4 linked regions of the Homo sapiens genome follow. The protein of the gene in region 3 purifies or fractionates together with the protein of the main gene of each other region. This does not show direct contact. Each region holds a gene or a part of one and is shown on either strand. Other genes may lie near its edges. The genes, in order: MOV10, SULF2, TIAL1 and MIX23.

The links.
Region 1: the proteins of TIAL1 (region 3) and MOV10 purify together in Homo sapiens (affinity purification with western blotting; one study listed by BioGRID and IntAct). This does not show direct contact.
Region 2: the proteins of TIAL1 (region 3) and SULF2 purify together in Homo sapiens (co-immunoprecipitation; one large-scale study listed by IntAct). This does not show direct contact.
Region 4: the proteins of TIAL1 (region 3) and MIX23 fractionate together in Homo sapiens (co-fractionation; one large-scale study listed by BioGRID). This does not show direct contact.

Annotation. Positions count from the first base shown.
Region 1 is NC_000001.11:112,695,093-112,698,661, forward strand, and holds part of MOV10 (helicase MOV-10), read left to right. Parts: intron 1-323; coding exon 324-482; intron 483-1,055; coding exon 1,056-1,159; intron 1,160-1,344; coding exon 1,345-1,442; intron 1,443-1,537; coding exon 1,538-1,754; intron 1,755-2,901; coding exon 2,902-3,019; intron 3,020-3,194; coding exon 3,195-3,386; intron 3,387-3,545; coding exon of another isoform or gene 3,546-3,569.
Region 2 is NC_000020.11:47,778,973-47,782,541, forward strand, and holds part of SULF2 (extracellular sulfatase Sulf-2 isoform a precursor), read right to left. Parts: intron 683-3,569; exon of another isoform or gene 1-682. UniProt on the Homo sapiens protein: Exhibits arylsulfatase activity and highly specific endoglucosamine-6-sulfatase activity. It can remove sulfate from the C-6 position of glucosamine within specific subregions of intact heparin.
Region 3 is NC_000010.11:119,586,931-119,590,499, reverse strand, and holds part of TIAL1 (nucleolysin TIAR), read left to right. Parts: intron 1-2,251; coding exon 2,252-2,348; intron 2,349-3,569. UniProt on the Homo sapiens protein: RNA-binding protein involved in alternative pre-RNA splicing and in cytoplasmic stress granules formation. Shows a preference for uridine-rich RNAs.
Region 4 is NC_000003.12:122,376,708-122,380,276, forward strand, and holds part of MIX23 (protein MIX23), read right to left. Parts: intron 1-3,569.

The sequences.
Region 1 (3,569 bases), on a different chromosome or scaffold from region 3:
GACCAGCCTGGACAATATTGCAAGACCCTATCTCTATGAAAAATATGAAAAATAGCTGGGCACTTGAGGCTGCAGTGCGATTGTGCCACTGCACTCCATCCTGGGTGACAGAGTGAGACTCTGTCTCAAAAAAAAGGGTGGGGATTGGGGAAGTGGGAAGTTAGGGTAAATGTGGCTGTGGAGCACTGTTGTACGGGTAGGGCACTGCATGAATCTTGGAGTCACCATTCACATTTCAGTCATCATAGACTTGCCCTGCCCCAGCCTGGGTACGGCTGAGTCTCAGGAACCTGCCTCCCACACTGCGCTTATCTGCATCTCAGGTGGTGAAGCACTTGCCCAAAGCCCACATCTTGGCCTGCGCTCCATCCAACTCAGGGGCTGACCTACTCTGTCAAAGGCTCCGGGTCCACCTTCCTAGCTCCATCTACCGCCTCCTGGCCCCCAGCAGGGACATCCGCATGGTACCTGAGGACATCAAGGTACTAGGGAAGTGCAGAGGGCCAAAGAATGGCAAATGCCGGGGAGGCTCTCAGGGCAGACACTGAGGCGAGGAAGCTAGGAGACCTGGATTCTGATACTTGCTATGTGACCTTGGGTTGGACAGGACCCCTCCCTGGGCCTCAGTTTGTCTGTAAGTGAGGGGGGTGGATAAAACATTTGGGGGGCTGGGTGCAGTGGCTTACACTTGTAATCCCAACACTTTGAGGGGCGAGGCAGATGGATTACCTGAGGTCTGGAGTTTGAGACCAGCCTGGCCAACATGGCAAAATCCCGTCTCTACTAAAAATACAAAAAAATCAGCTGAGTATGGTGGCGCGTGCCTGTAGCCCCAGCTACTCGGGAGGCTGAGGCACGAGAATTGCTTGAACCCAGGCGGCGGAGGTTGCAGTGGGCCAAGATCACACCATGGCACTCCAGCCTGGGGGACAGCGAGACTCCGTCTCAATTAAAAAAAATAAAAATAATTGTTTGAGGGGGGGTACCCACAGCCAGAATCACGGTGGGAATGAGTGGAGCCAAGCTGATTCCTCTGGTCCCTTCACAATCCACAGCCCTGCTGCAACTGGGACGCAAAGAAGGGGGAGTATGTATTTCCCGCCAAGAAGAAGCTGCAGGAATACCGGGTCTTAATTACCACCCTCATCACTGCCGGCAGGTGGGGAGTGTGTGTGGGTGTGTCTCTGAATCGTAAGTGTAATTAAAGGGGTACCGGGCTGGGGAAATGGGGAAGAATGGTTTCCGGAGTGGGGTGGTGGGTGCTGAGAAGCCAGCCTGGGAAAGCATTCAGGTTTGGTAGTTGGGTGCCTGGATATGACCCCTGCCTGGCCTGACACCTCCCAGGTTGGTCTCGGCCCAGTTTCCCATTGATCACTTCACACACATCTTCATCGATGAGGCTGGCCACTGCATGGAGCCTGAGAGTCTGGTAGCTATAGCAGGTGAGGGACTCAGGTGGGGCTGCAGGTATACACCCTGTGTGGGTCAGAGAGGTTGCACCACTTACCTTTCTTCCCACACCTCTTCTGCTTCCCAGGGCTGATGGAAGTAAAGGAAACAGGTGATCCAGGAGGGCAGCTGGTGCTGGCAGGAGACCCTCGGCAGCTGGGGCCTGTGCTGCGTTCCCCACTGACCCAGAAGCATGGACTGGGATACTCACTGCTGGAGCGGCTGCTCACCTACAACTCCCTGTACAAGAAGGGCCCTGATGGCTATGACCCCCAGTTCATAACCAAGCTGCTCCGCAACTACAGGTATTCCCATGCCCTTGCCTCCCCTGCCATATCCTATGCTTTCACATCCTGCATGCAGACCCCACTGGAGAGTCTGGCTTGCTGTCAGTCCTGTTGCTCAGAGGTTGTGTGATGCAGAAAGACTAAACTGGAAGGCAGGAGGTTTTTCTAGCCCCAGCACTGCTGCTTGTTGTCTGCGTGACTTAGCCAGTGGTTTCACACTACACCAGTCAGCTTATCTGCATCTTAGGGGGTGGTCAGTGGTTCCTAGAGGCTAGGGTGTGTCTGGTACCAGTCCCAGATGAAGTTTTCAGGCAATCCAAGGAGAGATAAGAAAAATAGGGAGGAGGTCGGGCACAGTGGCTCATGGCTGTAATCCCAGCACTTTGGGAGGCCAAGGTAGGTCAGGCTCCCACCCCCGATCACTTGAGGTCAGGAGTTTGAGACCAGCCTGTCCAACATGGTGAAACCCCATCTCTACTAAAAATACAAAAATTAGCCAGGCATAGTGACAGGCACCTGTAATTCCAGTTACTTGGGAGGCTGAGGCAGGATAATCGCTTGTACCCGGGAGGCAGAGGTTGCAGTGAGCTGAGATCGCGCTACTGCAGTCTAGCCTGGGTGACAGAGCGAGACTCCATCTCAAAAAAAGAAAGAAAAATAGGGAAGATACAGTTTTTTCATAAACCTATTGTTATTCAAATTAAAGAGCTGTATACTTTTAGTGAATGAGTTCAGCCATCTAAAATGCTTAGATAAGTTTTATGCTGTCACTAAGAGCTCAATAAATGTTAGTTATTGTGTCATCACTGCTTATATTTTTTGATTTAACACATGGTCTCATCAAATAACGTGATAGTCAAGGAGAATTTGGTTTCGTACTGTCCTTGGTAAATTTGAAACCTGAAAATGGGCCCCTAATTATTTAGTTTTAAATGTCATGGGTCTGTGGAGTCCCTGGACTAGATGCTCTCTGGAACTATATTTGGTTCTGCTTTCTGTGGTTTACAGTGCCTGGCAGCAGATATTATGGAGGAGTGTCCTGCTATCCAGGGAGCCAGCGGGGTAGCAGGCTATTGTGTGTGGGCCCAGAGTGGGTAGAGCGGAGCCCCTGTAGGGCAGAGGGAATCTGACCCTTGGTCTTGCTTTTCCTCCTCCGGCCTCCCAGGTCTCATCCCACCATCCTGGACATTCCTAACCAGCTCTATTATGAAGGGGAGCTGCAGGCCTGTGCTGATGTCGTGGATCGAGAACGCTTCTGCCGCTGGGCGGGCCTACCTCGACAGGTGAGGCTGAGCAGGGCAGGCCCCACCCCTGTACCCTGACTTCCCTCCCACTGAAGGTGCAGCCCCTCCCTTTGTCACCTTGGCCTAGGATCTCTTACTCTCTGGAAGGGTTTGGGAAGGGAGGGAATAGAGGGAGGGTGGTCTGGCTGACGGTTTCCCCCGACCCCATGTCCAGGGCTTTCCCATCATCTTTCACGGCGTAATGGGCAAAGATGAGCGTGAAGGCAACAGCCCATCCTTCTTCAACCCTGAAGAGGCTGCCACAGTGACTTCCTACCTGAAGCTGCTCCTGGCCCCCTCCTCCAAGAAGGGCAAAGCTCGCCTGAGCCCTCGAAGTGTGGGCGTCATCTCCCCGTACCGGAAACAGGTCAGGTCCTCAGTTACCAGCAAGGGTGGGGCCCCTCCCCCAGATGGTACCTCCTTAATATCCAGACCACTAGGCAGAGGCTCCAGGAGCTTAGGCCTCTGCTGGCTCCGTATCTCAGAAGAGCACCAAGGTCAGCTGCCGCCTCCCTTTGTTCCCCAGCTCCCTGGCCTCCTGCCAGGCTCC
Region 2 (3,569 bases), on a different chromosome or scaffold from region 3:
ATCCACGTTCACCACCCACTGAGCTTTCAGACATCCAGGTGGGGTTCATCTCAAACCCAACATTTCCACGTCGGAATTCCAGATCACTCCTCCTCCCCAAAACCTTCTCTCCTATCTTCCCTATTTAGCAATCACCACGCACCAGGCTGCCTAGTCACCTTTGACTCCTTGGCAGGATACATCATGAATATTTGGGCTGAATCATTTTTCACTGTGGGGTCATCCCGTACATTGCAGGTTAAGCAGCATCCCTGGCCTCTACCCTCTAGATGCCAGTAGCAACCCTTCCCCAGTTGGGACAACCTATACTGTCTCCGGATAGTGTTAAAATGTTTTCTGGGTGTCAAAATCACCCTCGGTTGAGAATCAAAGCCCTTTCCCTCACTCTGTAATCCAATCCACTAGGAAGTCCTGTGGGCCCTACCTCCAAAATACATCTCCAATCCCCATTTCACTCCATCTCCATTGATACCACCACGGTCCAAGCCACTCTCGGGCCCTCTCTGTTGCCTAACAGTCCCGGTGATACCACTTCCATCTGCACAGCACGCCTCTCACAGGAGCCAGCAGGATCTTCTTGAAACACAAATCATATCATTCTCTGACTTAAAACCCTCCAATGGTTCTCCATTTTATTTTTTAATTTATTTTTGAGATGGAGTCTTGCTCTGTCACTCAGGCTAGAGTGCAATGGCACAATCTCAGCTCACTGCAACCTCCACCTCCTGGGTTCAAACGATTCTCCTGCTGCAGCCTCCCGAGTAACTGGGATTACAGGTGTGCGCCACCGTGCCTGGCTAATTTTTGTATTTTTAGTAGAGATGGGGTTTCACCATGTTGGCCAGGCTAGTCTTGAACTCCTGACCTCAGGTGATCCACCCGCCTTGGCCTCCCAAAGTGTTGCGATTACAGGCATAAGCCACCGCGTCCAGACAGTTATCCATTTTATTTAAAATAAAGTCTAAAATTTCTTAGCATGGCCTGTATTTCTCATCTCTGACGTGCCCTCCCCCACTTACTCCTGACCCTCTACCCTAGTTGACTTTTTTTTTTTTTTTTTTTGAGACAGAGTCTGACTCTGTTGCCCAGGCTGGAATGCAGAAGTGTGATCCCGGCTCACAGCAACCCCTGCCTCCCGGGTTCAAGTGATTCTCCTGTCTCAGCCTCCCAAATAGCTGGGACTACAGGCACGTGCCACCACACCTGGCTAATGTTTGTATTTTTAGCAGAGATGAGGTTTCACCGTGTTGGTCAGGCTGGTCTTGAACTCCTGACCTCCAGTGATCTAACTGCCTCAGCCTCCCAAAGTGCTGAGATTTCAGGCGTGAGCCACCACGCCTGGCCTACCCCACTTGACTTCTATTTGTGTTTGGGGCAGGTGTCTTGGACAGGCCCCTCCCACCGCCTCTGGGCCTTTGCACTAGCTGTTCCTTCTACCTGGCATGCTCTTCCCCCAGATCTTTCCAAGGCGGACTCCTTCCTAAAATCTAGGTCACAGTTCAAAGGTCACATCCTCACAGAGGCCTCCCTGACAGCCTGCCTAAAGTTGCCTCCCACCCCATCACATCATGCAGTCATTTTTCTTTTAAATTTTTTTTTGAGACTGAGTCTCACTTTGTTGCCCAGGCTGGAGTGCAGTAGTGCGATCTCAGCTCACTGCAACCTCCGACTCCTGGGTTCAAGCGATTCTGGTGCCTCAGCCTCCTGTGTAGCTGGAATTACAGGCAAGCACCATCACACCTGGCTAATTTTTGTATTTTTAGTAGAGAGAGGGTTTTGCCATGTTGGCCAGGCTGGTCTCAAACTCCTGACCTCAAGGGATCCTCCCACCTCGGCCTCTCAAAGTGCTGGGATTATAGGCATGAGCCAGCACGCCAGGCCTAGAGCATTTTCCCCGCCTTCTGACAGCCCCTGCATTAGGCAGGAAGACAAAGAGGCCCACGCTCCAGAGCTCTCTTCGCCAAACCCTCCTGCTGATATAGAATATACACATGACATATTGGTCATGCCCCCCAGCATCCAGGACCCTCCCTAGAAGTTTGATTCAACAGGATCTGGTCTTTGCCTTTTTAAACAAATACAGCCAGATGATTCTCATGGTGGGAGGTTAGACAAACACTGCCCCTGGCCCCCCGAAAGCACAGGATCAAGGCCAGGCCCCATCCTTCAGACAGTAAGGCAGAAAAGTCAGGCCTTTGATGCCTCCTGGCCCTGGTGGAAGGGAGAGGCATTGCCCAGGCAGCGTGTTTCCCCAGTCTCCACCTTGGCCAAAATGAAGATGGGTCCATCTGGCCAGCATTGCTCACATTAGTGGCCCATCATCGCAGGCACTGGCCATCTGCCTCTCCAGCAACCGGGCTTCCCTTTCACTGGGGACTCCCCGTGCTGTTTTATTCCAGGCTTTGGGGTCTCAGCAGTCAGCCTCCATCCAGCTCCAGGGAGAGGCCTGTGAGCCTGGCTTAAGCCAATTGTTGGCAACTCATTTCCTTAGCCAGTGACTGGTTTGGACAAAAAACAGTCCAATCAGAGGGAACCATGGGGCTCAGGTGTGCATTGCCAGATCAGAGGCTTGTTCTTTCCTTTTGGGCTTAAACCAGAGGGGATGAGACCCCTCTGCTCCATGACATCTGTCCTGACACCTAAGTTATGGTAACAGTCAATGCCTACTGAAGGCTCACCTGGGTCAGACGCCCTGCTAAGCACTTGACATTGATCATCTCATTTCATGCTTACCACAAGCAGGAGACAGGTGCTATGATCATCATCATTTGTTGGATGTGAACATCAAGGCACAGAAAGGTTAAGTAGCATGCCCCAGATCCCACTGCTGGGCAGGGAGCCAGGCAGTCTGGCTCTCCTAGCCACGGTGCCCACAGCTGCCAGGGACTGCCCGCCCCAGAGCTGGAGAGACATCAGCCTCATGGAAGGCAGAGGAGCGGTGGATAGGAATGGATTCTCATTACAAAATCTGAGCTGTGGGTCCAGCTGTGTCTGAAGCTAGAGTTAGTCACCTTAAGACTTTTGGTTATGAAAACCAGTAAGTCCACTTCTTTTCTCCTTAAGCTGGCTTGAGTTTTTTTCTTCTCTTTTTCCGTTGCTTGCAAGAGAAAGGAACCTGATTACTTTACAGTTCTTCTAGGCAAGTACCCCTAACTGATACTCCATTTGCAACTTGCACACAGCAGCTGCTCAGTAAACACCAGCAGATACGGATGGACTGCTCTCCCTTCCGGTCCATTCACTGCTGGATCTGTACCCTGACACCCAACTGTGGCCAGCCCAGCGCTTCTTCCCCTTTAGGCTCCAAGTGAGGCCTCGTTCCCTAGCAACCACCCCAATTAGGCAACCATGCCATTTATCGGGATGCCAATTAATTATAACGATCTTAATGCCCTCCCAATTAGACAGTGCCTTCAATCCGGCTGGGCCAGGGCTGTCTGTAGATCTCCACCAAGGCCCATTCCAAGGAGGCCCAGAGAAAGCAGGTTTCAGGGAGGGCCCCCTCACCTGCAGATCAGCATTGAGAGAGGCCCCCATCTTCCACATCCGCCCAGGCCTGACACAGAGCA
Region 3 (3,569 bases):
GACCTCATGATCCGCCTGCCATAGCCTCCCAAAGTGCTGGGATTACAGGCGTGAGCCACCATGCCTGGTCACTTGTTCATTTTTCTTACAGATAGGTCTACTCTGTACAAAAAGAAATCATTTCAGAGATACAGGCTCACAAACCCCTATGAGTTAAGAAGGGGCAAGCAGCCTATCGCTGGCTCATAACCCAATAACCTTTTAGTCCTGCTGGAAAAAGTATGTCACTACATTGGCCTGCTGATGGATCAGCTCCTTAATTACGTGGAAAAGGTGGCATAGTGGACGTAAAACAGTTTGTCACTTGTTTAGTCCTCTAGTTAGGTAATATTGGATGTGTGTTTCAATTTTAGAGCAGGTACACTAAGATTATTAGTACTCATTGCAATAAAATTCTTAACTGGAAAATCGCTACTAATTCTTAATTGGATCTTTTAAGTTTTTTACTTAACCTAAGCTTTCTCAGTCTATTTTTCCCTTTGAGTATTCCATCTTAAAGCATGTTGTGTATTTAATGTGGCAGCTATGTTGCAAGTCTTATTTTGGTCTTAATACTCAGTTTCCAGATGTAATATATTACAAGTAGAAAAAGAAATCTACTTTCCAGAATGAACTTTGTTAAATTTTACAGATATTGTTTGGTTTATGAGGTTGTTCATAACAGATGCAAATTTGAGGAATTATGTGTAGAATACCAGAAAGACTTTAGTGTTTGGCAATTTATTTAGATAAATTAAGATAAATCCATAGTACAAGACATAAACCAAGGTGGTCCTCTCTGTGTGATGAAGTAGCATTTTTTTCTTTTCTTTTTTAAACTTTCCTGTATTTAAAATCTTTTACACAAAACACATTCAATTGTAATTAGGAAAAAAAACCCAAATTTTTAAGTGTCCATAGTCAAAAGTATGCCTGGATTTGTCTTAGTTTTTCTCTGAATTTCTTAAGAAATCTTTGTATTAGCTTTTTTATCTACATTAAGATATATTTTGTTGGCTGGGCATGGTGGCTCACTCCTGTAATCCCAGCACTTTGGGAGACTCAGGCAGGTGGATCACTTGAGGTTAGGAGTTTGAGACCAGCCAGGCCAACATGGTGAAACCCCGTCTCTACTAAAAATACAAAAATTAGCCGGGCGTGGTGGTGCACGCCTGTAGTCCCAGCTACCTGGGAGGCTGAGGCAGGAGAATCGCTTGAACCTGGGAGGCGGAGGTTGCAGTGAGCTGAGATCATGCCACTGCACTCCAGCCTGGGTGACAGAGTGAGACTCCATCTCAAAAAAATACATATATATTTTGTTGATTCTGATGCATTTTAGACTAGGAAATTTTATATTTTACCCTGCTCTCCTAAAATGAAACAGTGAAGACATCATTGCAAACAACCTTACTCAGCCAAAAACAAAACAACAAAAACCCTCCACCCTCTGTATGTTTTACTATAACTTTAATTCTGTTCTTTGTTCATGTAATTGCTTTGGTTGGGAATCTAAGATAAACTCACTTTATGTTTAATATCCTATTACAATCAGATGTTTTAATGAATTAGTATTTGTTGTATGTGTGTGTGTGTTATAAATTATTTTTAATTAGAAATTGTAGTTATCTTGAGACCAGTTTAAAATTTTAACAATTAGAATAAGATGAGAAAATGATATCCAGGGTACAGAATAATAATGCCATTGGGGTATACAAGATCACATTGATTTGTTCTTTAAATGTCTTTCAGAGTGGTATTTTAGTGGCCTAAGAACAATTGTTGCTTTCCTAAATAAGGGTTAATCTTACTTTCATAGGATCAGGTTTAATTGGAGAAATTTTGTTGAAAACAGAGGAAGTTAAAATGAAATAAAAGGTGGCCGGGCGCAGTGGCTCACGCTTGTAATTCCAGCACTTTGGGAGGCCAAGGCGGACAGATCACCTGAGGTCAGGAGTTCAAGACCAGCCTGACCAATACGATGAAACCCTGTCTCTACTAAGAATACAAAAATTAGCCAGGCATGGTGGCATGCGCCTGTAATCCCAGCTACTTGGGAGGCTGAGACAGGAAAATCGTTTGAATCTGGGAGGCGGAAGTTGCAGTGAGCTGAGATCATGCCATTGCACTCCAGCCTGGGCAACAAGAGCAAAACTCCATCTAAAAAAAAAAGAAAGAAAGAAAGAAAGAAAGAAAAGGTGATGAATTAGATGATAACACATTAGAGCCAGAGCTAAAGGAAAAATTGCTGATAACGTATTTTTTTCTTGTGCAGATACGTAGGTAACCTTTCCAGAGATGTGACAGAAGTCCTTATACTTCAGTTGTTCAGTCAGATTGGACCCTGTAAAAGCTGTAAAATGATAACAGAGGTAAGATCTTCCCAGTTCCATGTGCTGACAATTAGCATGATGGGTTGATTAGCATGATTTTAAAATTTCATTGTAAGCCTCAAGTTATTCTGGTGGAGAGATTTGTGTTGTGTTGACTTATTACTTTGATTTGGCTGACAAACTAGGCTTAGAATGGAGTTTTATTTAAGAGGGCAAAGTTTCCGTGCTGTTAAGCTCAAACGGTCATTCTTCATGGTGTGGTTATCTTGAAGTGATTCTGCTTTCAGAACATTATTAGAGCTCATTTCAGAATGGTGAAAAATTGGAAAGTATTTCATACAATTCCAATAAGAATGTTAACGATTTAGACAGCATGTGTTCATGTGCGAGAACACGAAGTTATTATGTGTGTAGTGTGCAGCACCGTTCGTCTCGTGTGTCTGTAGCAAATACTTACCTTTTTATACTTTCCTGCTAAGACTGTAGCAGCACCCAATTAGTCATGTTTTAGGCTTTTCTTCCTTGTGTTTTTGTTCATTGATCAGCTTTCTTTTTTTTTTTTGGACTATTTCCTATGTACTAGATACTGCAGTAAGTGCTAGAGATACACTGGTGAATAAAGATAGTTCCTTGGCCCAGAGAATTTTACAGTTTAGTAGGGAGACAAAGGAGTTAGCAGGCACTTAGGAAGTAGGATAATAAATGCTCTAGAAGCAGACAACTTAAAGTGCTGTGGGAGCAAATGTGTATCCAGTGCAGCCTTAGGTCAGTGAGCGGCTTCTTGGAGGACTCACTGCCTAGGCGGAAACCTTGAAAGGATAGTAGTACATACTGGCTAGAAAGGAATTGAGGGAAGAAGGGATTCCAAATAAAGGGAACTTTGATCCAGGTTGGTAGGGAGAGCAGGAGTGCTTGAGACAGAGAGGGAAAAATAGAACCCGTAGCATGGTTGTAGTTAAAATGGAATTAGTCGTAAGAGATGGCAGGAGTTTATGGAAAGGGCTAGAAACTGTGCTAAAGAGTTTGTTTTATCCTGAAACGGAGAACTGTTAAAAACCTTTAAAGTGCATTGGCCTTTTGATTGTCTTTCCCAAGTAATGACAATCATCATTTTGTTCTGGTGTATTATATTTTTCCTTCCTGCCTTTAATTATTTATTTGTGCTTTCATCGATCAAAAATTTCCTTTGCACTAGGCACTATACAAGGTACTGGAGATATAATGGAGAGACAGCCAAATGAGTTTCCCAAGCAAATAGGG
Region 4 (3,569 bases), on a different chromosome or scaffold from region 3:
AAAACAGAAAATCAAATACCAAATGTGCTTGCTTATAAATGGTAGCTAAACAATGGGTACATATAGACATAAAGATGGAAAGAATAGACATTGGGGACTCCAAAGGGCAAGGGTAAGGAGGAAGGTGGGGGGTGAAAAATTACCTGTTGGGTACTATGTTCATAATTTGTGTGATGGGTAAATTAGAAGGCTATCAAGCAGGTGCAGTGGCTCACACCTGTAATCCCAGCACTTTGGGAGGCTGAGGTGGGTGGATCACGAGGTCAGGAGTTTGAGACCAGTTTGGCCATGGCAAAACCCCGTCTTTACCAAAAATACAAAAAATTAGCCGCGCATGGTGGCGCACACCTGTAGTCTCAGCTACTTAGGAGGCTAAGGCAGGAGAATTGCTTGAACCCAGCACGCAGAGGTTGCAGTGGGCTGAGATCACGCCACTGTACTCCAGCCTGGGTGACAAAGCGAGACTCCATCTCCGAAAAGAAACCTGTATATGTACCCCCAAATCTAAAATTTTTTAAATTAGAAAAAACAAAAAACAAAAAACAAAGCTCTGTTTTGGACTTGTTAACGTTTGAGATGCCTATTAGATATCTGAGTAGAAGAGTGGAATAGAAAGTAGAGTATGCCAGTCTGACACTGATCGGGGTGGAGTTATATTAATAAACTGATGTTCTTTAAAACCATGAAACTAGAAGAGATCACTGGAGGAGACTGTAGAAAGCGAAGGAGGCCAATGATTAAGGAATTCTTACATCTAAAAGTAAAGGAAAAATTCTGTGATGTCACGGAAGTCAGAAGAAAGGTTTAACGGAGGGATTGGTCATTTGTGTTGAATGTTACTAACTCAAGAATTATATGGGGCCAGGTGTGGTAGCTCACATCTGTAATCCCAGCTCTTTGGCAGATTCAGGCGGGAGGACTGCTTACGGCTAGGAGTTCAAGACCAGCCTGGGCAACACAGTAAGACTCTGTCTCAACAAAAGTAAAAAATTTAGCCAAGCATGGTGGCATGTGCCTACAGTCCTAGCTACTTGGGATGCTGGGGCAGAAGGATCACTTGAGCCCAGGAGTTCAAGGTTACGGTTACCTATGATGTGCCACTGCCCTCCAGCCTTGGTGACTATGTCTCAAAAAAATTTTAAATGAATAAATGATTATATGAACAGAAATTAAACTTTTAAACTTAGCAGGATGGAAATCAAGGGTGACCTTAAAGAGAGCCATATAAATAGAGTGTTTAATGGACTGAAAAGGTAATGTGGCTTAAGTACACAGAGAAAGATAAAACATGGTGTAACATGAGGTCCATTATTAGAGGTCATATGATAGGATTTTAGTCTTTTCTGAGACCCACAGGGAACCAAACATGTGTTTTCTGTTGTGATTAAGGTTACATGATCAGATCTGTGTTCTAAAATGACTGCTTAGATTAAAGTGGACTGCAGAGGAACTAGAGTAGGTGTCAAAAGATCAGTTAGACGACTGCAGCAATCCACGTGAAAGATTACATCGTTTGACATTTCCTGGGGTTTGTGTTGACTCTGAACTTTAACCAGTTTTGAGTTTGAACACTTTAGCCCGATTCATCTCCAATAAAACAATTTGGACATACTACTAAATTCCTTACATAGCAATGGGAATCTATCCACATTAACTATGTAATGAGTCCATCAATTTTATTGTATTACCAGTGGAACCTATGGATTATCAAATAGTCATGTAGTGCTTAATGACAAGGAAACATTCTGAGAAATGTGTCATTGGGTGATTCTGTTGTGTGAACATCATAGAGTGTACTTACACAAACCTAGATGGTATGGCCTACTTACACACTTAGGCTATATAGTATAGATGATTGCTTTTAGGCTACAAACCTATACAGCAGGTTACTGTACTGAATGCTGTGGGCAACTGTAACACAGTGATACTTGTGTATCTAAATATATCTACATATGGAAAAGGTGCAGTAAAAATATGGTGTTATAATCTCATGGGACCACCGTTGTATATGTAGTCAGTCACTGACTGAAACATCATTATGTGGAGCATGACTCTGTATCAATTTTTCTGTGTGTACTAGAGAATTATCAATATATGATCTAGAGCTTGCCTTTAACATGGCAGACATTAGCCATGTGAGATTATTTAAATTAAAATTAAATGCAATTTAAAATTTAGTTCCTTAATTGCACTAGTCACATTTCAAGTATTCAAGAGCCACCTGTTGCTAGTGGCTATCATATGGAGATAGCATAAATGCAAAACATTCCCACCATCACAGAAAGTCCTACTGGACAGTGCTATATTCTAGAAAATATAATGACAACCCCTAAACTGATAATGTACTTGTTCAGGAATTGCTGAAAACTGTATGCCATTCTTAAATGTCACAGAAGAGATACCAGAAAAGCTAAAGAGAAAGAAAAAAAGGGAGGTAAAATGATTGGGGAAGGAAACATTGTAGCGAAATAAAGTGTGGGTGATGAAGTAGTAGAGGCATGCCATTTAGTCAATCATTTCAGCTATGAAAAGAAGGAGATTCGAATTTTATTTATAGGAACCTGTTGAGAACAGTGAATGTTCTGTCCAACATAGTAGCCCCTCAGTGTTTTTGTGGTGTAATGAGACAGGAAGTGATTTCTTTCAAAATTGAAAAGGGAGAAGGAAAAGAACTGTAAACCGTCTCACCAGGCTCACATTTCTTCACAGGGAAAAAAGTGCCAAAGCTGTTAAGGCAACTCCAAGAGGTTCTAGGCAAAAGTTCGGGCTGCCCTCACACATTGTGAGCAAACGAAGGTGAATGAAGGCACAAAAATGCTGCCATTGAATTATGTGGATCATCCATAAGGAATTACTGACTACCTACCGGAGGCTTAGCCCCAATGGCATACACTCCTGTCCAGAAATTCACCAAGAAAATACATAGAAGACACCCCTGAACAGAACAGACATTATACACAATAAACTGCAACACCTGTCCACAGAAATAACACAGAAATACACACAGTTCAATGGTTCTCTGAAGGCTGCATCTTGTGTAGAACCCTCATGAGCTTCTAAACATTAAATCACAGCCAAAGATAACTTTATAAATTCTGTAGTACTCCCAGCTTCTTCTATCTTTCATCCTCCTCAAAACAAGAAGAGATCTGATATATCATGAACCTCTCATTGTAGGCTGACTCTGAAATTATGCAGGCGTTTTTCTTGGAATGCATTTTATGTCTTCTCTGTAATTGGTGGGGTAAAAATCTCATCCTCTTGGAAGGCAATTTAGGTATTGAAGGAGTGCCTATATTTAGTAGTGGGAAGGGGTAGAGAAAACTTTCTGTTGCCCCTACAATTATACTATAGTCTATTCCTAAGATTCATTCTCAGGTAAAGTTATTTTATAATTCTACATATTTTTTAGGGTACATAGGGGTGAGGAGTAGGAAAGGGGCCATTATATAACTAAAATACACTGTACTCCAAAGAATGATATGGAACTCCCTTAACCTTTCCTCTCCTCTCCCTTTGCCTGATGGTACCCAGAAGTAATGTCATTGGTACTTGACATCAAAGTCCCT